Homo sapiens: one gene and its partners. The protein of the gene in region 1 purifies or fractionates together with the protein of each later gene. This does not show direct contact. Each region holds a gene or a part of one and is shown on either strand. Other genes may lie near its edges. The genes, in order: SLC6A15, CHP1, STX12, HACD2, PXMP2, GPR89A and RTN3.

What was found.
Region 2: the proteins of SLC6A15 (region 1) and CHP1 purify together in Homo sapiens (affinity purification with mass spectrometry; one large-scale study listed by BioGRID and IntAct). This does not show direct contact.
Region 3: the proteins of SLC6A15 (region 1) and STX12 purify together in Homo sapiens (affinity purification with mass spectrometry; one large-scale study listed by BioGRID and IntAct). This does not show direct contact.
Region 4: the proteins of SLC6A15 (region 1) and HACD2 purify together in Homo sapiens (affinity purification with mass spectrometry; 2 studies listed by BioGRID and IntAct, with this or other methods). This does not show direct contact.
Region 5: the proteins of SLC6A15 (region 1) and PXMP2 purify together in Homo sapiens (affinity purification with mass spectrometry; 2 studies listed by BioGRID and IntAct, with this or other methods). This does not show direct contact.
Region 6: the proteins of SLC6A15 (region 1) and GPR89A purify together in Homo sapiens (affinity purification with mass spectrometry, with the first as the bait; 2 studies listed by BioGRID). This does not show direct contact.
Region 7: the proteins of SLC6A15 (region 1) and RTN3 purify together in Homo sapiens (affinity purification with mass spectrometry; one large-scale study listed by BioGRID and IntAct). This does not show direct contact.

What each region holds. Positions count from the first base shown.
Region 1 is NC_000012.12:84,885,300-84,888,799, reverse strand, and holds part of SLC6A15 (sodium-dependent neutral amino acid transporter B(0)AT2), read left to right. Parts: intron 1-2,731; coding exon 2,732-2,889; intron 2,890-3,238; coding exon 3,239-3,365; intron 3,366-3,500.
Region 2 is NC_000015.10:41,279,328-41,282,387, forward strand, and holds the end of CHP1 (calcineurin B homologous protein 1), read left to right. Parts: intron 1-8; coding exon 9-62; 3' UTR 63-2,560; downstream 2,561-3,060. UniProt on the Homo sapiens protein: Calcium-binding protein involved in different processes such as regulation of vesicular trafficking, plasma membrane Na(+)/H(+) exchanger and gene transcription. Involved in the constitutive exocytic membrane traffic.
Region 3 is NC_000001.11:27,811,219-27,814,718, forward strand, and holds part of STX12 (syntaxin-12), read left to right. Parts: intron 1-944; coding exon 945-1,050; intron 1,051-3,500. UniProt on the Homo sapiens protein: SNARE promoting fusion of transport vesicles with target membranes. Together with SNARE STX6, promotes movement of vesicles from endosomes to the cell membrane, and may therefore function in the endocytic recycling pathway.
Region 4 is NC_000003.12:123,526,054-123,529,553, forward strand, and holds part of HACD2 (very-long-chain (3R)-3-hydroxyacyl-CoA dehydratase 2), read right to left. Parts: intron 2,422-3,500; coding exon 2,333-2,421; intron 1-2,332. UniProt on the Homo sapiens protein: Catalyzes the third of the very long-chain fatty acids (VLCFA) elongation four-step cycle (condensation, reduction, dehydration, and reduction).
Region 5 is NC_000012.12:132,694,087-132,697,586, forward strand, and holds part of PXMP2 (peroxisomal membrane protein 2), read left to right. Parts: intron 1-1,797; coding exon 1,798-1,960; intron 1,961-3,500. UniProt on the Homo sapiens protein: Seems to be involved in pore-forming activity and may contribute to the unspecific permeability of the peroxisomal membrane.
Region 6 is NC_000001.11:145,617,988-145,621,487, forward strand, and holds part of GPR89A (Golgi pH regulator A), read left to right. Parts: intron 1-332; coding exon 333-436; intron 437-3,500. UniProt on the Homo sapiens protein: Voltage-gated channel that enables the transfer of anions such as iodide, chloride, bromide and fluoride which may function in counter-ion conductance and participates in Golgi acidification.
Region 7 is NC_000011.10:63,712,500-63,715,999, forward strand, and holds part of RTN3 (reticulon-3), read left to right. Parts: intron 1-3,500. UniProt on the Homo sapiens protein: May be involved in membrane trafficking in the early secretory pathway. Inhibits BACE1 activity and amyloid precursor protein processing. May induce caspase-8 cascade and apoptosis.

The DNA of each region.
Region 1 (3,500 bases):
AGCATGCCAACGTGCCACGCTTAAAAGAAAAATTATTTCAATAGATTTTGGAGTAGAAGTGGATTTTTGTTACATAAATGAATTATATAGTGGTGAATTCAGAGATTTTAATGTACCCCTCACCCAAGTAGCATACATTGTACATAATATGTAGTTTTTTAACCGTATCCCCCATCCCAATTTTCCCCTTCTGAATCTCTAAAGTGCATTACATCATACTGTATGCCTTTGCATACTTACAGCCTAACTCCTACTTATAAATGAGAACATAAAGTTTTTGGTTTTCTACTCCTAAGTTATTTCACTTAGAATAATGGCCTCCAGCTCCATTCAATTTAATATGAAGGGCATTATTTTGTTCCTTTTTATGGCTGAGTAGTATTCTGTGGTGCATAATATCACCTTTTCTTTATCCACTCATTAGTCGATGGGCACTTAGGCTGGTTCCACATCTTTGCAATTGTGAATTGTACTGCTGTAAACATATGCATGTAAGTGTCTTTTTTTTGTTTTTGTTTTTGGCTTTTTTTTTTTTTTCGACAAGGTCTCACTCTGTCACCGAGACTGGAGTGCAGTGGTGCGATCTCAGCTCACTGCAACCTCTCCCCATCTCTGGACTCAAGAGTCAGTCTTCCCACCTCAGCCTTCCGAGTAGCTGGGACCACAGGCGCGCAGCCCACGCTCAGCTGTTTTTTTTTTTCCTTTGTTTTTTGTATTTTATTTTATTTTTTTAGTAGAGACGGGGGGCGTCTCACCATGTTGCCCAAGCTGGTCTCGAACTCCTGAACTCAAGCGATCTGCCAGCCTCGGCCTCCCAAAGTGCTGAGATTACAGGCATGAGCCACCGTGCCCAGCCTCAAGTATCTTTTTCATATAATAACTTTTCTTCCTTTGGGTAGATATCTAGGAGTGGGCTTGCTGGATTGAATGTAGATCTACTTTCAGTTCTTTAAGGGTTCTTCATACTGTTTTCTATAGAAGAATTTGAGATAGAAGAAAAGTCTAAGTATCCAACAGCATGTCACCCACACATGACTGGAAAAAAATCCCTAATGAGTTCAGTCATAATTCTTTCTCTCTCTCTTTTTTCTTACTCATTCACATGCGTATAAAAAATCCATTCATAATCTAAGATTTGATGCAGATGTTAAAATTCACTTTCAGTCTTTGGGAAAAACATTCAGGTCAGCAGTTCCTGAATGTTACTAATCATTTTAGAATTAGAATTTTGTTTTCTAAGCTCATGCATCCAATTTTTACATTGTATATGTAGTTTTGTTAGAATCAACTAAGAATGAAAGACTGAAAATCAGTCATAGAAAGGTTCAGATTATGTAGCAACCACTATGTAGGGAAATGCCTGGATATAATCATTATTACAGAGATAAACAGATGCTGAGATAAATAATTTGAAAAAATCCATTATTTCACTGCTTCAGCTGAATACAGTTACTCACTATGTATTTGTGTTCCACTAAATATTCCATTAAGACGATTCGAATAGCTTCAAAAATCTATTCAGTGCCATTAAACATATGATAAATATGTAGGAAATGTATAATAAAAGGCTCTTTATAGAAAATAGGAATTAGTTACCATTGATTGTAAGACCATTACATTTAACAGTATCTAGTTGGACAAAACTGCAGATTAAAAAATTGAATGTAAGAAGTTTAGCTAAGAGGTCATTTAATAATAATTTGCACATGTAGCCTCATGTAGGAACGACCTCCACAGGCTGAGGTGGGAAGATCCCTTGAGCTGGGTAGTTTGAGAATGCAGTGAACAGTGATCACACCACTGTACTTCAGCCTGGGTGACAGAGTGAGAGCCTGTCTCCAAAAGGAAAGAAAGACACAAAGAAATGAGTAAAGGTTTCACATTCATCTTTTTATAATTCAGTTAATAGAATCTTGTATTAACATTGTCAAACTATTTAGGTACCTTTTGAAATCACTAGTCATAGTCATATGTCTTAATTTGTGATTTAACTAAAAAATACTTTTTAAAATATGGAAATTTTATTACAAGGATAATAACATATACATTTTTACAATAGATATTAAATGTTTTAATTTCTTAATGACTCTCACTACCTTTTCTGATAATTTTGGAAAACAAAATCTATTTGTGTACTTCTTTTATGTAGTATTTATGGGAAAAATGACATTTGTCTCTGGTAGAAGTTATGTTGCTGTTTTTTTTTTTTCTTTTTCAGTCTAAGCAGACGTTTCTTCTTCCATGATGTTATTTTATTTGGAAAAAAAAGTCAACGTTAATGCCATAAAATCTCATTCACTCTAATTTTTCTGATTTAGAATGCATTATTTCAATGAGTTTGTATAAATTTTAATAAATGAGTTCATAAACATTGTGTGAATAAGATTTCTAGGAGTTTGTGAAACCTGCCCCAGAAAAGAATGAATTTTAAATAATCAATTATTTTTATGGAAAATGAAACTGTTTTACTCTTTAAATAAATTTAAGCTAAAGCTATTCATTAATATTCTTAATTTTATCCTAATTATTTTATTATCAGAAACTCTTTGTAGAAATCAAATTCAAGTTTCAGAATCTAGAAAGTGCAAAGTAATGAAATTGTGTCTTCTTCAGAGCTCTCCATAATTGCACTATATAGTAATTCAAATATTATCTTTAATGGGATAAACTGAACTAGTGTATTTTCTACTGTATTGAAAATATAATCTATTTTTTGTTGTTGTTTCTTTAGGTGCATATCTTTTACCATATTTAATACTACTTATGGTAATAGGTATTCCCCTTTTTTTCTTGGAACTCTCTGTGGGTCAAAGAATTCGGCGAGGCAGCATTGGTGTATGGAATTACATAAGCCCTAAACTGGGCGGGATTGGATTTGCAAGTTGTGTAGTAAGTTTCCTTTTGTTGGTGTATGCTGTAATCTTTATAGGGTTTCAAATTATATAATTAACATTTAAATGAAACTTTGGAGTGTGTGTTAATAAACAACTCTTTTACTATGTTTTAGAAAACGTTACTGGCATATGGATTAACTATAAATATTAATATAGCTCAATGTTGTTAATGCCTGTTCTAAGTCCTGAGAAAGACATTAACTTTTTAGAAAAGATAATGTGTCCCAAATAAATAATAAAATGAAGAGGATTTTAAAATGTTAAATAAAATTTTATGCATTTGATCTCATTCTTTTAATGGAAGAGGTATGAGAGGTTTAATGGGATATCATTTTATTTTGCAGGTGTGCTATTTTGTAGCTCTCTACTACAACGTCATCATTGGCTGGAGTTTGTTTTATTTTTCTCAGTCTTTTCAGCAACCCCTGCCTTGGGATCAGTGTCCTTTGGTGAAAAATGCTTCACACACTTGTAAGATATGTATAATACAGTGTTTTGGTATTTAAGCATTATAAGAGTGGCAAAGGTACAAGCTTTCAAGATTTTTTTCTTTTTAAAATAATGTAGAAACATCATTCAAAATTATCATTATAACAGACTTTGCTC
Region 2 (3,060 bases), on another chromosome or scaffold:
TCCCCCAGGTTTTGGAGAAGGTGGATGTAGAACAGAAAATGAGCATCCGATTTCTTCACTAAAGGAGACCAAACTGTTCCTTGCGGTCTAGTATTTAAGAACTGGAACTTGAAAGTCCTCCTTCTACCAACTCCACCTCCACCCCCTCATTCCCCTTCTCCCAAAGTACTACTGCTGTTGCATGACAACCCCAAATATGTTCTGTCAACACAAACCTGCCTTTGGTGTATAAACAGGGCATTACAGAATGGTACACCCTATATATTTCTGTTCAGTATCCATTCACTAGTTCTTCATTTATAAATATCATCTTCCCCATTCTGCTGCTGAATGCCACACATCCATCCAGTCTGAGAAAGTGAGAGAGGCAATCATGCCAAGAACAAGCCAGCAAAGCTCTTTCACCAGATGTAGACTGTAGCCCTGCTGCCTTCCCTCCAGCGAGTCTGCCAGCATGCTTCTTCATCCTTTTTATATGTTCTTTGCTTCCTACTTCCCTGTCTTCCAACATACTGTTCACTTACTCTGGCAGTCTTTCTGCTTTTCATTAAGCCTCAAAATCTCCTCTGTTCTACTTGGCACCACAAGCTATGTCCTATATATGTATTTCTGACTTGGCAGGATAGTTCAGGGGTCTGGCAGTTTTTATTTACCTTCATTATTAAATGGGCCTCTGGGATGTTGCCTCTTCAGGAGCTTTTTGGTAATCAATACTTCTCTCAGAAGTATGAGACCATCCTCTGCACTCTGCTCTGTCATCAAAGGCTGCTGGGTGGAGATACCCTTTTTGAAAGGTGGCCTTGGTGAGAGGTATGGAGCCAAGTCTTCTAGGTTGCTTGCCCACATCACTCTATCTCTGGCCTCTGATTCTCAACTTTGTACCTGTGTGGCTCCTCTTGTTAGTGCAATGTTGACTGTTGAAAAAGCAGCAGTATGCTTACAGGTTTGCTTAGTTTGGGGACACCGTTACCACCAGAATGGCTGCTCTGACAATATGCCTAGGGACTTTCTCATGGCTTTTATTTAATAAGGAGGCTGGGCACCCTATAAAGCCTCATGCATTCACACCTTTGCAGCATGGTTTATGCCTCAGTGTTATGTGCACTGGAATGTTTTCCACTTCACATTTCCAAGTAGAAATATTAGTGTTACGGAAGTGCCTAATATCCCAGTCCAAATTTTTTTTTTTTTTTTTTTTTTTTTTTGAGACAGAGTCTTGCTCTGTCACCCAGGCTGGAGTGCAGTGGTGCGATCGCTCACTGCAACCTCAGCCTCCTGGATTTAAGTGATTCTCCTGCCTCAGCCTCCCAAGTAGCTGGGATTACAGGTGTGCACCACCATGCCCGGCTAATTTTTTGTATTTTTAGTGGAGACAGGGTTTCACCATGTTGGCCAGGCTGGTCTCGAACTCCTGACCTCGTGATCCGCCTGCCTCAGCCTCCCAAAGTGCTGGGATTACAGGTGTGAGCCACCACGCCTGGCCCCAGTCCAAAATATTTAAAGATTGTTTCCTTAGTGTCTTGAAGTTTTGCACAAAATTCTTTTTTTTGAGATGGAGTCTCACTCTGTCACCCAGGCTGGAGTGCAGTGGCGTGATCTTGGCTCACTGCAACCTCTGCCTCCTGGGTTCAAGCAATTCTCCCACCTCAGCCTCCCAAGTAGCTGGGATTACAGACGTGTGCCACCATACCTGGGTAATTTTTGCATTTTTAGTGGAGAGGGAGTTTCACCATGTTGGCCAGGTTGGTCTTGAACTCCTGACCTCAGGTGATCCTCCTGCCTCGGCCTCCCAAAGTGCTGGGATTACAGGCATGAGCCACCGTGCTCAGCCGCAAAATTCTTTATGAATTTTACACTTGGCAAATGTTAATGACGGAAGCCATAGTCTGCTCCTAATACATGTCCAAAGCATTGACTGTTGTGTCATTAGCTGCCTGGTTACATTAGCTCCCTGGCTTCTTGTTTAGACCACTGCTAATCCCTTAAAAACAAGAGGTCTGGCACTAGTAGCACAACCTAAGGTGGCATTACAGATCTTTGAGCGAGCCACAGCAACTTTTCTGCCAAGTCAGCTTAGTTTAGACTTCAGTGAATCAGGCTATTGCTATCCTAATGTATGTCTCTATGAGTGTATTTAGCCACACATCTGCCCTTGGTTGACTTTCTGACTCATTGCTTGCTTGCTTGTTTCCTTGCTTTGGAAAACTATTGAAGATTGCTAAAAAATACCACTGCAAAGTGATGGAAAAGGGTGGAGAACAGGGGAGTAGCCAGGCTGGATGGCTCAAATATAAATGAATGAGGAATTCTTTATGAAGTATCAGTCAGATTTTATGATTAAGTGATGTAATATAGGAATTATGTAAAAGGGAAGAATGTCTGATACTGATCTATTAGAGAGGTACTTTAGAGGCTTCTTGATTGGCATAAAGTTCCTAAGGTTATAGATTTTCCCCCCTTTTGGCTGTATAGCAAAGTGTTTTAATCCACGGTTGTGCCTTATTGTTCCATTAAAATTGTATCTTCGATCCATCAATAAATACTTGTGGTTGAAACAAAATAACTTTTGTCCATTTTACAAGAATTTTATGTAACTTAGTCCCTTCAAGTTTGAAATCACAGTGTCTCCCTTACTCAAGTTTATGTCTGTACGGTCAGCTGCAGTCTACTCTGCTGCTGCCTGGATATATGAAGTGGAAACATTCATCGAGGGGCCAGCACTTTTGGCTTCGACATGGTTTTGTCAGCCGTGGCCACTTCCCATTCATTCCAGCTAAGACGCAATTTCTATTCTTGACTCCCTGACTCCTTAAATGTAGAAAAAGCCTAAAAATCCAGTATATGTCCATTCCTTAAATTGCCCACCTCCTCATTCATGTGCAGCCTCAGCGGTGACATACTCTGGTTTTACATGGCTTTTTCTTTGCATTTCTTTTTTGAGATGGAGTCTCACTCTTGCCCAGGCTGGAGTGTAATGGCACAGTCTTGGCTCACTGCAACCTCCGCCTCCCAGGTTCAAGCAATTCTCCTGCCTCAGCCTCCTGAGTAGCTGGGATTACA
Region 3 (3,500 bases), on another chromosome or scaffold:
TGAGGCAGGAGAATCTCTTGAACCCGGGGGGCGGAGTGAAGTAAGCGCCACTTCACTCCGGCCTGGATGAAAGAGCGAAACTCCGTCTCAAAAAAAAAAAAAAAAGCCAGGCATGGTGGCTCAAGCCTGTAATCACAGCACTTTGGCAGGTTGAGGCAGGAGGATAGCTTAAAGCCAGGAGTTTGAGACCAGCCTGGGCAACAAAGCAAGACCCCCATTTCTAAAAAGAATTTTTTAAAAAGTGTTATAACATTTCACTAGCTTTCTGTTAAGAGGGTTTTTTATGGATTGTTTTTTAATAGAGATGAGGGTTTTGCTATGTTAGCCAGGTTGGTCTTGAACTCCTGGCCTCAAGCAGTCCTCCTGCCTCGGCCTCCCAAAGTGCTAGGATTACAGGCATGAGCCACCGCGCCTGGCCTGTTAAGAGGTATTTAACCCAAAGCATAACCCCAAGGAAATTTTGGAAAACTAGGAGATGTGATTCTGTTGAACTAACTGGCAAAGCACTGATAGGTCACTTAGCTTGCTCTTCTCCACCCACTTAGTACTGAAGGTACTAATGCAGCTTGCACTTTGAGAGTGCCCTGGAAGATGATGGTGCAACATAATTCAATGAGTTCAAATCTCTGGCTACTTTCCTTGTCTGGCAAGCCCCAGTGAGATTACAGAGTATACCCCTAAATGGAAACAGCCAGGAGTCCCATCCGTCATAATTCTGCCACATGTCAGCTTTGCCCATGGAAGCTGAGTCTTTGTTTTCCTGATATCATCAGCTCTTTGCTTCTGGATATGAAGAATGTGGCCCTCCAAGACTTTATTGATAGCAGAGGACTGGAGCCCTGGTAATGTCTTTGCATAGGTTCTGCTGGCAGTAGAGATGTTGGAGATATGTCTTGTTATGCCTTTGAGAGGAGAAATCACCTAGTGTGCCTGTTTCCCTGCAGCCATGAGGAGTGGAACCAGATGCAGAGCCAGGAGGATGAGGTGGCCATCACTGAGCAGGATTTGGAACTTATTAAAGAAAGAGAAACGGCAATTCGGCAGCTGGAGGTGAGAGCCACGTCATGTTTTTTGTTTGACTCAGTGTGTCTGCAGGTATCTGAACTCCTTAGTTCACTTTAATTCTCTTAGTGATTATGAAAAGGCATAAAATGTGTCATTGTGTGATTTGTATTTTTTCTGTCTCAGTGTAATCATGGTGGGTTTGAACTACCGGTTTTTTTTGTTTTTTTTTTTATCTTGGATGGAATTTCGCTCTTGTTGCCCAGGCTGGAGTGCAGTGGTGTGATCTTGGCTCACTGCAACCTCTGCCTCCTGGGTTCGAGCGATTCTCCTGCCTCAGACTCTCGAGTAGCTGGGATTACAGGCATGTGCCACCACGCCCAGCTAATTTTGTATTTTTAGTAGAGACGGGGTTTCTCCATGTTGGTCAGGCTGGTCTTGAACTCACGACCTCAGGTGATCCACCCTCATCGGCCTCCCAAAGTGCTGGGATTACAGGCGTGAGTCACCGCTCCTGGCATGAACTACTGTTATAATGGCATTGGCCTTGGTGCCCAGGAGTACTCAAATCCTTTCCTCAATCACCACATCTTATACGGATCACCACATCTTATTTCTCCTGGAGAAATGTACATGGAGAACAGAACAAGGCAGACAGATATTTTATTGCTCATTAGAACTTTGACCTCAAATCTCAATGCCAACCTCCGGGTTAGGCAGGACTCCATGGAGAGCCCCTTTGCTTAGTCTGAAGAGCCCAGAATAAAGGCAGGCCAAAAGTCTTGCTCCATTTTTGTATATCCTAAAGTCTAATCCCAAGTTGTACATCTTATCCCTTCAGTGAGTCAGAGAAATAGGAACAGTTTTTGAGGTGGAGGTTGAGGGAGAAGTCTGTAGGCCTTTCTTACCTAACTGAGCTTTCAACTTTAATTTTGCACAGTGACTAATAAAATATCCTTTTTTTTTTTTTTCCGAGACTAAGTCTTGCTCTGTCGCCCAGGCAGGAGTGCAATGACACTATCTCAGCTTACTGCAGCCTCCCTCTCCTGGGTTCAAGTGATTCTCCTGCCTCAGCCTCCTGAATAGCCGAGACTACCAGTACGCACCACCACACTCGGCTAATTTTTGTATTTTTAGTAGAGACAGGGTTTTGCCATTTTGGCCAGGCTGGTCTTGAACTTCTGACCTCAAGTGATCTGCCTGCTTCAGCCTCCCAAAGTGCTGGGATTACTGGCATGAACCACTGTGCCCAGCTAAAATATCCTTAAACCTGAGTTTTCTCCAGTTTAGTTTTCTCCGAAGGTAGAAGGCTGCCATTGCTGGGATCAGGGGAGGAGAAAAGGAGAGAGGGAAATTTTGAGCTCTTCCTTGGCCTCCATCTGTAGCAGTGGTTCTGAACTGTGAGTGCACATGAGGATCACCTGGAGAAGATTTTTTTTTAATGCCCCAGCTCTCATCCACCACTAATTACCTGATGGGATAATGTGAAATTCCTGTTTATTATATGTTAAAAATGGGCAAATATCCATTATTTTATATGGTTCAAACTAATAAATCATAATTTCTGGGCGTGAGGCCCTGGGCATGGGTATTTTTTTAAAAAGTTCCCCCAGGTGATTATAATATGCAGCCAGGGTTGAGACCCACTGCCCTAAAGGCCATCAATGTCTGTTTTTATCTATTTATTATTTATTTTTTGAGTCAGAGTCTTACTCTGTCACCCAGGCAGGAGTGCAGTGGCGCGTTCTTGGCTCACTGCAACCTCCACTTCCTGGGTTCAAGCGATTCTCCTGCCTCAGCCTCCTGAGTAGCAAAGATTATAGGTGCCCGCCACCACTCCTGGCTAATTTTTGTATTTTTAGTAGAGACGAGGTTTTGCCATTTTGGCCAGGCTGGTCTTGTCTGTTTTTAGATGGGATAGTTTATCCTTAAGTTATGATTATTTTATTGCCTTCAAAAATGTCATATCTTTACTCTTTTTCACCTACTGCTACTACTAATTGAATTAATTGTCTAACATTAGAAATATGGCTAAGTGCAATGGCTCATGCCTGTAATCCCGGCAAGTTGGAGGCTGAGGCAGGATGATTGCTTGAGCCCAGGAATTCAAGACAGCCTGGGCAGTGTAGCAAGACCTTACCTCTACAAAAAATAAAAAATTAACCGGGTGCTGTAACATGTACCTGTGGTCCCAGCTACTCAGGAGCCTGAGGCAGAAGATCACTTGAGCCCAGGAGATCAAGGCTGCAGTGAGCCATGATCGTGCCACTGCAATCCAGCCTGGGCAACAGAGCAAGACTCTGTCTCAAATAATAATAATAATCCTTCCTTCAAAGAAAAATTACTAGCCGGGCGCGGTGGCTCATGCCTGTAATCCCAGCACTTTGGGAGGCTGAGGCGAGTGGCTCACCTGAGGTCTGGAGTTCAAGACCAGCCTGACCAACATGGTAAAACCCCGTGTCTACTAAAAACACAAAAAATTAGCCGGGTGTGGTGGT
Region 4 (3,500 bases), on another chromosome or scaffold:
CCTCTGAGGGGCCACAGCAACAGCCTTTTCAAGGTGACATATAGCAAGCACTGGCCTCTGAGGGGCCACAGCAACAGCCTTTTCAAGGTGACAGATAGTAAGCACTGGCCTCTGAGGGGCCACAGCAACAGGCTTTTCAAGGTGACATATAGCAAGTACTGGCCTCTGAGGGGCCACAGCAACAGGCTTTTCAAGTTAGCTGTCGAAGACGTAGGGCAGGGATGGAGGGCACCTACTGCTCTAAACAAAACGATGAATGAGGAGTTCTGTGCAGAGAAAAAGAGAATGAGGAGAAAAGAACCATGATCCTAGGACAGCAGAAACGCTGAAGTCCAATTACAAGTGAAAAGAGTAAGTCAATTCATCAACAGTGCATATGTAAAAACAAGAGGATCCAAGAGGCGATGGGAAGACAATAAAATATACTGAAGAATGTACTACATACTTCAGAAAATGATATGCCTTTTCTTTTTCTTTTCCTTTTTTTTTTTGGCAGGTAAAGAAAATGATATGTTAATGTTAGCAGAAATTGAGTCACTCTGGTTGTAGAGAAACAATTTTGAATATGGAAATGTAATGAGTATATAACAAATTACTGTAAAGCTCAAATGTGATAATGTATGTGAAACCGTCTGTTATATGTTAAGTCCTTTGCATCTGGCAGGCAGCATGGTTATGGAGGATGACACCAAGTCCATGTACCTATAATCCACAGAGACATTTAATAGCTTTGCAAGCCAACCAGTTTCAATGATCTACACAGGAAATCCTGGCAAATGTTGCTAACAGCAACTTGACTAATAGAATTGCCTGATTTGAGTTGTAAAGCATTTTTGACGTACCTGTCTACCTGCTTTGGCAGATGTGCTCATAGCTGAGGAGTGGTCACTAAGTGGAAGGGAGGAAGCAGAGCCCATGAAGAATCTATCAACTGGTGGATTAGCACCTGGACAATTAATATTTGACTATATTGGCAAAGTGATTGGATATTTCATAGTGAACAATACTTTGACTTCATGTACCTAGCACTTAATTACTGAAAGTACATTAATTATCTATTTAAGAATGTAAATGAGTTACTACTAGGAAGAAGTTTTAGGTCATTGGAGACTATTGGAAGATAAAATTATGAGTTGTTGGTTAAAATGAAAAGGAAATGGTATCTACACAAAAGTATGAGAGGAAGAAATATCGCAGTCCTTGCTTATCTGAAGTTTCACTTTCCGTAGCTTCTGTTACACCTGGTCAACCACAGTCCAAAAATATTAAATGGAAAATTCCTGAAAGAAACAATTCCTAATTCTTAAGTTGTACACTGTTCTCAGCAGCATGATGAAATCTCATGCTGTCCCACTCTATCCCACCTAGGACACGAATCTTCCCTTTGTCCAGTGTATCCATACTGTATATGCTACTGGCCCATTAATCACTTAGTAGCTAACTTGGTTATCAGTGCTTGTGTTCAAGTAACCCTTATTTTATTTAAAAACAGCCCCAAAATGCAAGAGTAGTGATGCTGGCAATTCAGATATGCCAAAGAGGAGCCATAAAGAACTTCCTTGAAGCGAGACAGTAAAAGTTCTCAGCTTAATAACGAAACAAAACAAACTGTATGCTAAAGTTGCTAAGTCCTACAGTAGGAACAAATCTTATATTTGTGAAATTGTGAAGGAAAAAGAAATTTGTGCTTGTTTTGCTGGTGAACCTCAAACTGCAAAAGTTGCGGCCACAGGGCATGATAAATGCTTAGTAAATATGTAAAAGGCATTACATTTGCGGGTAGAAGGCATAAACAGAAACGTGTTTCGGTCAGCAGCAATCGGGTTGTGTGCTAGCCGCTGTTTCTGGTATCCAGTGGGGGTTTTGGAATGTATTCCCCTTGGATAAGAGGGAACTACTGTATAGGTTTAAAATGATGACTTGGGTCAGGTGTGGTGGCTCATGCCTGAAATCCTAGAATTTGGGGAGAGTGAGGCAGGCAGATTGCTTGAGCTCAGGAGTTCGAGAGCGGCCTGGGCAACATGATACGAACAAGATATCAGAAAAATATAACTGAGTTGCAGACCACATCCACACCATCTGAACCTCCATGAGAACTCAGATTACAGGACTTTACCATTTAATCAGTCTTCTTTTTAACAACACTGCATATCTGGGATATGTTTCCCACTATTAACCCAGTTCCTACAGTGAATGTGAGCTTTATCTCAGCTATATTGACATGACCTGGAACTCTGACCTGGAACTCTTTAGCCATAACAAACATGTGAATCAGAAAAGTTGACTAGTGTTTGTTAGTGTTGACATTATTTTGGTCTATATAAACACTTACCTCTTTGACGCTATGTGTTACTGCCCATATTAGAAAAACTCTTGACATCACCTGGAAAGAAGTCAGGACAACAGAAGATGGAACAATTCCTGAAAGAAATTTTGGGATGGATAAATAAATGTACTGTACTAAGTTTCGATATATAATATATTTTCTAAAACATTCCAACTTAAATGTTTAGAGTCAAAACGGTCTTGAGCAACTGAAAGGTGTCTATATTGTTACACAGACTAAGTTTTCAATGTAGTCCACATTAAAACAAAGTTTTCTCCCTAAAAACAATAATATTTTTAATGGTATTATAAAACCATGGGATCCAGGTACCTTTCTTAAACCTCTCAAAACCACTGACCAAGTACAGTATTTTTTACACTTACTGTATAGATGGAGAAAGCAAAACCACTACCTAATCTTTAAAATAAGACTCATTTTACAATACGGGTTTCAAAACAAATAGGAAACAAAGGATGAGAAATCAATCCTATTTGTGTCTAATGAGTGCTGGAAGCTCATGGACATCAGACTTGATACACTATCTAATGGTTAAGTTAGGTATCTTTTATTATCTACTTGAATATTTTGCCAACAAGCATAACAACATAAAAGACTATCTTTAAAACCTTTTTTTTTTTTTATCACCTTGTTCATTACAAGCCCTGGCACAATTATCCTCCCAATGTCCTCAAGTTATAACACTGGAATCATCTTTGATTATTTTCTTTATTTATTTTTTGAGACCGAGTCTCACTCTGTCACCCAGGCTGGAGTGTAGTGGTGCAATCTCAGCTCACTGCAACCTCCACCTCCCAGGTTCAAGTGATTCTTGTGCCTCAGCCTCCCAAGTAGCTGGGACTACAGGCATGTGCCACCATCGCTGGCTAAGTTTTTGTACTTTTGGTAGAGATAGGGCTTCACCATATTGGCCAGGCTGGTCTTGAACTCCTGACCTCAGCTGATCCGCCTGCCTCGGCTTCCCAAAGTGCTGGGATTACAGGTGTGAGCCACCACACCTGGCAGTTAGTTATATCTTAACAAAGCTGTTACTAAAAAAATAAATGGCCAGAAACAGTGGCTCACGCCTGTAATCCCAACACTCTGGGAGGCTGAAGCAGGAGAATTGCTTGAGTCCAGGAGTTCTAGACCATCCTGCACAACATAGCGAGACCTT
Region 5 (3,500 bases), about 48 Mb from region 1:
CCCTTAGCCAGTTAGTGAGCGCCCTTGCCAGTTAGTTAGTGAGCGCCCTTGCCAGTTAGTTAGTGAGCTCCCTTAGCCAGTTAGTGAGCTCCCTTAGCTAGTTAGAGAGCTCCCTTGCCAGTTAGTTAGTGAGCTCCCTTAGCCAGTTAGTTAGTGAGCTCCCTTAGCCAGTTAGTGAGCTCCCTTGCCAGTTAGTTAGTGAGCTCCCTTGCCAGTTAGTTAGTGAGCTCCCTTAGTCAGTTAGTTAGTGAGCGCCCTTGCCAGTTAGTGAGCGCCCTTGCCAGTTAGTGAGCGCCCTTGCCAGTTAGTTAGTGAGCGCCCTTGCCAGTTAGTGAGCTCCCTTAGCCAGTTAGTTAGTGAGCTCCCTTAGCCAGTTAGTGAGCTCCCTTAGCCAGTTAGTTAGTGAGCGCCCTTGCCAGTTAGTTAAGTGAGCGCCCTTAGCCAGTTAGATAGTGAGCGCCCTTGCCAGTTAGTTAGTGAGCGCCCTTGCCAGTTAGTTAGTGAGCTCCCTTAGCCAGTTAGTGAGCTCCCTTAGCTAGTTAGAGAGCTCCCTTGCCAGTTAGTTAGTGAGCTCCCTTAGCCAGTTAGTTAGTGAGCTCCCTTAGCCAGTTAGTGAGCTCCCTTGCCAGTTAGTGAGCTCCCTTGCCAGTTAGTTAGTGAGCTCCCTTAGTCAGTTAGTGAGTGCCCTTGCCAGTTAGTTAGTGAGCGCCCTTGCCAGTTAGTTAGTGAGCGCCCTTAGCCAGTTAGTTAGCTCCCTTAGCCAGTTAGTGAGCTCCCTTAGCCAGTTAGTTAGTGAGCGCCCTTGCCAGTCAGTTAGTGAGCGCCCTTGCCAGTCAGTTAGTGAGCTCCCTTAGCCAGTTAGTTAGTGAGCTCCCTTGCCAGTTAGTTAGTGAGCTCCCTTAGCCAGTTAGTTAGTGAGCTCCCTTAGCCAGTTAGTTAGTGAGCTCCCTTAGCCAGTTAGTTAGTGAGTGCCCTTGCCAGTTAGTTAGTGAGCTCCCTTAGCCAGTTAGTTAGAGAGCTCCCTTGCCAGTTAGTTAATGAGCTCCCTTAGCCAGTTAGTTAGTGAGCGCCCTTGACAGTTAGTTAGTGAGCGCCCTTGACAGTTAGTTAGTGAGCTCCCTTAGCCAGTTAGTGCCCTTGCCAGTTAGTGAGTGCCCTTGCCAGTTAGCCTAGTGAGTGCCCTTGCCAGTTAGTTAGCCTAGTGAGTTCCCTTGCCAGTTTGTTAGCCTAGTGAGTGCCCTTGCCAGTTAACCTAGTGAGTTCCCTTGCCAGTTAGCCTAGTGAGTTTAATGAAAAGCTCCACAACCAGGGACATGTCTGATGATTCATTATTGAGTGCTTCTCGAAGCCTGGCCCTGTTCTGGGCACTGCAGTGGACAGAAGACGTAGCCTCCCTTGTGGAGCCTGCCTTCTAGGGGGGACGAGAGGCACAGACTAACCTAACATATGAGATAAGGACAGTGCTAGGCAGAAAATGAACCAGGGCCAAGAGTGTTAGCACAGGCGTGCACACGTGCTGGGACGACCTGGAAGCTGACAGTGTGAGGAGGAGCGAGCCAACATAGCTAGGCGGGGACGCGCTGGGAGCAGAGAGTCAACGGCAGGAGCAAGTCTGGTCTGTTAGAGCAACAGAGACAGAGCGCCCCTGAAGCCGACTTATCTGTACAGACCTGTGTGGCCAATACTGAGGGACATCAGGAAGCAGGGGTTAGGACCTGGGATTTGGGGGTGAAGCTAGACCAGAGAAGAGCACATCCAGAGAACCACAATCTGGCTCACACCCCCTGGGGGCCTCAGGTTCTTCTTCACAGGGCCGCTGAGTCACTTCTTCTACTTCTTCATGGAACATTGGATCCCTCCTGAGGTCCCCCTGGCAGGGCTCAGGAGGCTTCTCCTGGACCGCCTCGTCTTTGCACCGGCCTTCCTCATGTTGTTCTTCCTCATCATGAACTTTCTGGAGGTGGGTGTCTGCCACAGCACTTACTGCAGCTCTTCGTTTAGCACAGGGATTCTTCACCTGACATTCTCGGCAGAATTCAGAGGGTCTGCAGATTTTTCACTCAAATTGAAATTTTGCATTTTCTTTTATGAATATAGGAAGCAAACATCTAGTATTGGCAGGACCTGTTTGTACCCAGTAGAGTCACTTTATTTATTTATTTATTTAAAGACAGGGTTTCACTCTGTCACCCAGGCTGCAGTGCAGTAGCACAATCATAGCTCACTGCAAACCTCAAACTCCTGGGTTCAAGCGATCCTCTTGCCTCAGCCTCCCAAGTAGCTGGGACCACATGTGCGTGCCACCACACCCAGCTAATCAGATATTTTTATATCACATCAGTTGTTACAGATATCTCGAAATATAATTTATGCTCATTACTACTTGGACCTGCCATTAGAGGTCTTGTCACTGTGTAAAGAAAGAAACAGGCCGGGCACAGTGGCTCACACCTGTAATCCCAGCACTTTGGGAGGGCGAGGCGGGTGGATCACCTGAGGTCAGGAGTTCGAGACCAGCCTGGCCAACATGGTGAAACCTCGTCTCTACTAAAAATACAAAAAATTTAGCTGGGCACAGTGGCAGTCGCCTGTAGTCCCAGCTACTTGGGAGGCTGAGGCAGGAGAATGGCGTGAACCCGGGAGGTGGAGCTTGCCGTGAGCCGAGATGTCGCCACTGCACTCTAGCCTGGGTAATAGAGCCAGACTCCGTCTCAAAAACAAAAAACAAAACAAAACAAATTAGCCAGGTATGGTGGTGCGTGCTTGTAATCCCAGCTACTCGGGAGGCTGAGGCAGGAGAATCGCTTGAAGCCGGGAGGTGGAGGTTGTGGTGAGCTGAGATTGTGCCACTGCACTCCAGTCTGGGCAACAGAGCAAGACTCTGCCTCAAAAAAAAAAGAAAAAAGAAAAAAGAAACAGGGCCGGGCATGATGGTGCACACCTGTAATCCCAGCACTTTGTGAGGCCAAGGCCAGTGGATAGCTTGAGGCCAGGAGTTCGGGACCAGCCTGGGCAACATGGCGAATACCCATCTCTCAAAAAGTAAAAAATGAGCCAGTGTGGTGATGTGCACCTGTAGTTCCAGCTGTTTGGGAGGCTGAGGTGAGAAGATCCCTTGAGCCCAAGATGTGGAGGCTGCAGTGAGCAGAGATCACACCACTGCACTCCAGCCTGGGTAACAGAGCAAGACACTGGTTCAAAAGACAAAAATAAATAAATAAATAAATAAACACATTAGTCTGTCAAAATTTTTTCTGAATATTTTGATAACTGTATTTCAGTATTATTGGTTCCTTTGTAGTCCTATTTTATTTATTTATTTATTTATTTTTTATTTTTGAGGCAGAATCTCGCCCTGTTGCCCAGGCTGGAGTGCAGTGGTGCGATTTCAGCTCACTGCAACCTCTGCCTCCCGGGTTCAAACGATTCTCCTGCCTCAGCCTCCTGAGTAGCTGGGATTACAGGAGCCCGCTACCACACCCAGCTTATTTTTGTATTTT
Region 6 (3,500 bases), on another chromosome or scaffold:
CCTTTAAACATTAACCATTATGTACGAATCTGTCAGTTTTTTGTCAGTATGCATCAGGAATTCTAAGTGCTACCTATGACCCTGTCACTTCATCTTCTTGTCCTCAAAATTCTTCATCCACAGGAGGATGCTGGTAATAGTGACTCAAGATTCAGAAGTGCCACCTATATTGATCTTTTTCTTTAGCTCCAGGCAAGTTGCTGTTGTGGCCCTACTTCCAATGACTTGAGAATTTCCTCAAAATAAGTTTTCTGACTTGTAACCAGAAGGAGGTTATCAGTTCAGTTTTTAAACAAGGAAATAACTTCTAGTCTCTGTTTGGCTTTTAACAGATACGTCAGTATGTTGTACAGGTGATCTTCTCCGTGACGTTTGCATTTTCTTGCACCATGTTTGAGCTCATCATCTTTGAAATCTTAGGAGTATTGAATAGCAGGTGAGTAAGAGTACTGAAAACTCCTCTTGAAGAGTTCTGTGCTACATTCTTTACAGTGGAAAAGCTATTGGATCTCATAACTGAAAAAAAAAACACTGTGTTAATAGTTCAGTTTCAGTAACTGCAATGATCACAACAGATATGGGTCACAGCCACCTAATAGCTGGTTTGATAAAGATTATGAGATACCAGGAAACAAAAGATCTGACCGTTAACTCTGAAGAACTCATTGGAGTGAGGCTGTGAAGCTGCAGTCTAGGCTTCACTCCTAGAAGCTTTATTTTTCCAGGACTGCTCGCTGACTGAATCCCAGTAACAGCCCTTCACATTGTTCTGCTGATTGAAAATCTCTACCTGAAAAGATTAGAATTCCTCAGAGCTACTTTAATGATCTCTCTGAAGACTGAAACTCCAGTTCTTACTTAACTTAGTTATTTTTATTGATTTTACAGTCATGGTCAAGTTTGGTTGAATTTAAAGTGTTTCTTAAAACACTTTTTAAAAATAACTCTTTACTCCCCTCCAAATAATAGACTTGTTAGTTTATTAGACAGTCTATTCAAAATATTTCTTGCTTGTTAATCTGCAAGCTTGAGTATGTTTTTAGGCCAGCATTTATATGTAGGGTTCATCAACTATGCTATGCAGACTTTGTTGTGCTTTTTTATCACCACCTGGAAAAACCTTTTAGGAGTAAAGCAGTCTTTCACTCTAAAGTTAGGATTCAGTGCCAAGGTAAGTTCATTATAGACCCCTGGCACTTGAGACTTGTAGAGAGACTATACTCTCAAATCCTTTGATAATCAGAGTTGAAAACGAAATTTAAATTAAAAAGAAAAACTTACTATACAGATGGTTAATCACAAAACATTGAAAGGTTAAAAAAAAAAAAAGAAGAGAGAGGGGCCAGACATAGTGGCTCACGCCTATAATCCTAGCACTTTGGGAGGCTGAGGCAGGAGGATCACTTAAGTGCAGGGGTTCAAGACGAGCCTGGGCAACAAAGTGAGACCCTGTCTCTACAAAAAAATAAAAAAAATTAGCAGAGTGTGGTAGTACACGTCTGTAGTGCCAGCTACCCTGGAGGCTGAAGCAGGAGGATCCCTTGAGCCCAGGAGTTTGAGGATATGCAGTGAGCTGTGATCACTGGACAAGACAATGAGACCCCATCTCTTAAAAAAAAGAGTGAGAGAGAGAGAATCAGAGTTGATAATAATGGTCTCTTGATAGAACAATGAATAACATGTATTATGGTAAAATAGAAGTGTTTTCTGATTCTCCTGCTTTTAAACTTTAATAATCCAAACCTTGGCCGGGCACGGTGGCTCACGCCTGTAATCCCAGCACTTTGGGAGGCCAAGGCAGGCGGATCACGAGGTCAGGAGATCAAGACCATCCTGGCTAACATGGTGAAACCCCGTCTCTACTAAAAATACAAAAAATTAGCTGGGCGTGGTGGTGGGCGCCTGTAGTCCCAGCTACTTGGGGGGCTGAGGCAGGAGAATGGCCTGAACCCAGGAGGCAGAGCTTGCAGTGAGCCGAGATTGTGCCACTGCACTCCAGCCTGGGCGACAGAGCAAGACTCCATCTCAAAAAAATAAATAAATAAAAAATAATCCAAACCTTTTCTTGGATGAGCTAGATATAGATCCTGTGACTATAGAGAATAGACAGGTATTATTTTACATAATGGTTATTAAATTTTATTATCACAACCTGCATCTTTCACTGCTATTTAAGCAGGGGTTGGCAGGCTTTCTTCTGTAAAGGGCCAGATAATAAATATTTTAGGTTTCTGTGGACCAGAAGGTTTCTATCACAAGTACTCAGCTCTGCTGTTGTAGAGAGAAAACAGTCATAGGCAATATATAAACAAACGAGCATGGCCATGCTCCAATAAACTTAATTTGTAAAAGCAGGTGGCTGTGAGGCCATAGTTTGCCAGCTACTCATCTAAATATTGATACAGAGGATTCAGATATTCTAAAGCTATATTTACTGTTTTTGGTAGATGATGTCCCCCAACTTTTAACTTATAGTTAATAACCCGTATAGTAAGAAACATCTGTCATACTATGGTGTATGTTTCCTAAATTTCTTAATTAGTTAAAGAGGATAAGAAGTAGCATTGCTAAAATCTGGTTTTTCTTTGTGTGCTATATAGAGGATTGGGTCTGAGACATATCTTCAGTTATACCTGTTTTTTCATGCTAATGTTTCACCCAATTATGGAACACAAATATGAACCTTGATGATGTATAACTGTCCATTGACTGGACTCAGAATCGTTTTGAAAAGAGAATCTTGGCCAGAATATTCCTTTGACTCACCTTTGAGCAGAGATCATATGACTTCCTATTCAAATATGTAATCTTGTTGGGATGCTTAGTTTTTTCAAGAGAATATCACTTTACTCTCAGCTCAAAAGACTAGTTAAAACATGTGGTTCACTTTTAATAGGCAGTCCATACTGCCAATTAAAGTTGCACTTGTTATTTCAAACCCACTGCTTCCCAAAATCTTTCAGAAGCTTAGCTGAAATACTATGTAGTATTGCCTGGAGGATGTCCAGCTTGTTTCTTTCTCTAAATGTTCTAAAGTAGTTGTTAACCTAGAGGAGCAAAAAGCTGTCAATGTATCTAGTCTAAATGGTATTCACTCCCTGTAGGGTAGCTTTTACTGAATGGCTCTTTGTTTCGTGATGCCTGCCATCTGTACTAAGGAAGGAACAATAAGAAACAGCCCTCTGAAACATATTTCTCTTGAAAGGATGTTGTTGATGACACTGTTAATTGCCTTTGCATTTTCTTTATGAAATCTTTGAAGAAATTTCATTGTAATCTTGTTAATAATTCAGTAACAATAAATGATAATTATGCTTCCTTTGAGGAATTAATTTTTATTTTCTTACAGACATGATGATTTTATCTAACTGATCAAATTTTTTATTTCACATTGACCATTAGAAAACTTAAAGCTAAATTTATGACCTACCCATAGCAACTTTCTAGAATTCTGTTTTATAATAGCCATCAGGCTTGGCCCAATATTTTACCTGTTACCA
Region 7 (3,500 bases), on another chromosome or scaffold:
TTTTGAGATGGAGTCTCACATTGTTGCCTGGGCTAGAGTGCAGTGGTGTGATCTTGGCTCACCGCAATTTCCACCTCCTGGGTTCAAGCGATTCTCCTGCCTCAGTCTCCCGAGTAGCTGGGATTATAGGCATGCGCCACCACACTCGGCTAATTTTTTTGTATTTTTAGTAGAGATGGGGTTCTCCATGTTGATCCGGCTGGTCTTGAACTCCTGACCTCGTGATCAGGACCAGCTCGGCCCCCAAAGTGCTGGGATTACAGGCGTGAGCCACCGTGCCTGGCCGACTTCGAATTTTTTAATAAGAATTTTTTGGCCGGGCGCAATGGCTCACACTTGTAATCCCAGCACTTGGAGAGGCCGAGGCAGGCGAATCACCTGAGGTTGGGAGTTCCAGACCAGCCTAACCAACGTGGAGAAACTCCGTCTCTACTAAAAATACAAAATTAGCTAGGCCTGGTGGCGCATGCCTGTAATCCCAGCTACTCCGGAGGCTGAGGCAGGAGAATCGCTTGAACCCAGGAGGCAGAGGTTGCGGTGAGCCAAGGTCACACCATTGCACTCCAGCCTGGGCAAAAAGAGTGAAATTCCATCTCTCAAAAATATAAAAGAATTTTTTATTTGGGTCTAAAAATTTAGAATTTAGAATATGACTACCAACTTAATTTCTTAGTCTTTGTTTCAGATAATATATCTCAGTGGAGTATTTAGAGTTTAAGAAGATGAGTAATCATGGAGCTGAGTACTTGATAAGTTTGAGAACATGTTCATGATCATTGTGGGGATATGACATTTTTTACCTCTTACCATATATCGATTCTCACCCACCCCCCATTTTTTGAAACAAGGTCTTGCTTTGTCACCCAGGGTGGAGTGCATGGCTCACTGCAGCCTCGACCTCCTGGGCTCAAGCAGTCCTCCCACTTCAGCCTCCCAAGTAGTCAGGACCACAGGTGTATGCCACCATGACTGGCTAATTGTTTAATTTTTTTGTAGAGATGGGGTCGCACTGTGTTGCCCAGGCTGGTCTCGAACTCCTGGGCTCAAGCTGTCTCCCTGCCTTGGCTTCTCAAAGTGCTAGGATTACAGGCATGAGCCACCACACTCAGCTGATTCCCTTTTTAGTAAATCTACTAGATCTATGACTTTATTTGTTAATAATTAGAGTAGCACCATGTTTTTAAGTGATTAGAACTCTTGAAAATGAATATCCACACTAAATTCCATTATAGCAAAGAACTAATTTAGAAAATGTTCATAATGAGAGTTTTGATGGCGATTTGTTTTGAGTAGTGTTGAAAGGCTCTTAGAGTGCATGTGAAGGGATGAATCTTTTGAGAAAAGAAAGATAGTAGACATTTTCTGAGACATAAAATAATCCAGATTTATTCCACCAGACAGCTTTACAGTGTATAGTATTTTAAGAGCTAACTGCCTTCAGATTCACTGGACTTTTCTGTCCTTTTGCCAGGTACTGACTTGGGCAACAGCAGTGACTACAAGTGCCATACTGACCAATTGGAAGAGTCTTTGCTTATCGGAGCTGTTCTAAAAGGCTTATTAGTTTTTGGTCTTCATTCTATTTAATGTTTTCATGCCTTTATAAACTTTTTACTTCCAGCCCAATTTTTCCCATTGTCTTGGTACAGGTCAGCTGTGTCCAAGTTTGTTAGGGTTTCAGCTAGCCAAAAATGGTATTTTCATTTGCTGAAATTCTAAACAAAATAATTAAAGTTAAAGCACAGATGATGATGCTACCTTATTTTTCTACATGTGGGAAAGCTTGATTGATAGTAATGATTAGCGCCTGCATCTCACAATCACTGAGAAATGAATGCAGCACTGAGCTCTGTTTGCCCTCTAAGCTTGTCCCCAGAAAAAACAAGATATACCCTAAATAGTAAGTTATAATATTTTTATTAGGGAACATTATTAGAGTTTTTTTTTAATATATCTCGTAGCCATGTCATATTAATCTTTTTTCTTTTTTCCTTTTTTTCATTTTTCTCTTTTCTCTTCTCTTCTCTTCTCTTTTCTCTTTCTCACTCTGTCACCCAAGCTGGAGTGCAGTGGCATGACCATGGCTCACTGCAGCCTTGACCTCCCAGACTCAAGCAATCCTCCCACTCCAGCCTCCCAAGTGACTGGGACTACAGGCACGTGCCACCATGCACGGCTAATTTTTCTATTTTTTGTAGGGGCAGGATCTCAGCATGTTGCCCAGGCTGATCTTGACCTCTTGGACTCAAGCAATTTTCCCTCCTGTGCCTCCCAAAGTTCTAAGATACAGGCATGAGCCACCACACCCAGCCTAGAGAATCCTTAATGTTTGAAGTCTGTCAGGCTATCATGGTGCTCAGCAGAGGATGTGTTAGTATTCTGAGAATAGGACTTCTAACTTTAGTTTTACCTGAGATTATTCTACACCTAACTTGAAACTTTTGGAGTATTAAAGGTTCAAAGAAGTTAAGAGAAAAGCAAAGCTTGATAAACTGACCAGTTTGTGTCCTGCTAAAGCATAGACAGTTTTACCATGCTCTTCCCAGTGACATGAATATTCTTTGGTTAGCATTCAATTTGGTTGCTTTCTTTTTTGTTTAATCAGGCACTGTCACCACTGTATTATTGTCATCATTTTGCTTATTGATTTTGCTTATTGTCTGCCTTCCCCTCTGTGTTGTAAGCTCCATAAAGGCAAGAAATTTTTTCTGTTTTATTCACTGCTTTAAGCCCAGTTTCTAAAACAGTGTCTGACACGTGGTAGGCACTCAATAAATACCTGTTGAATTATTACTAATTCATTTTGTAGACTTTCATCTGTAAGATGACAGATCTGAATCATCTGAAATCTCCATCTCCATAAAACATATAAGCTGGCTGGGTGCAGTGGCTCATGCCTGTAATCCTAGTACTTTGTGAGGCTGAGGCGAGCAGATTGCTTGAGCTCAGGAGTTCGAGACCAGCCTGCGCAACGTGGTGAAACCAGCTCTCTACTAAAAATACAAAAAATTAGCCAGGTGCGGTGGTGCACGCCTGTAATCCCAGCTACTTCGGAGGCTGAGTCAGGAAAATCGCTTCAATCTGGGGGGCGGAGGTTGCAGTGAGCCGAGATTGCACCACTGCACTCCAGCCTGGGCAACAGAACTAGACTCTGTCTAAAAAAAACACACAAAAAACACACAAAAAAACATATAAGCTGAACCTCCCCTGTGGGGTGGAGTCAGTTTGACTCACCTCAGAGTTGTTTGAAGAGAGAGGTTCCCAAACAGTTTTACCATAACCTTAGTTCACTGAATGTTTTGTGGTAGAAACACTGACTAGTAAGTTCAGTAACAATGCATGGCTCAGATTGTGGAATATTTCTGATTTAAATGTAATCTGTAGTACTTCACACTTCAGATTTTTGAACCTTTTAACCTACAATACTGGGCTTCATTTCTGTTATGCCCTAATCTAGTCATGCTGAATATCCATACTGTATAATGGTAGATGCAAACCAT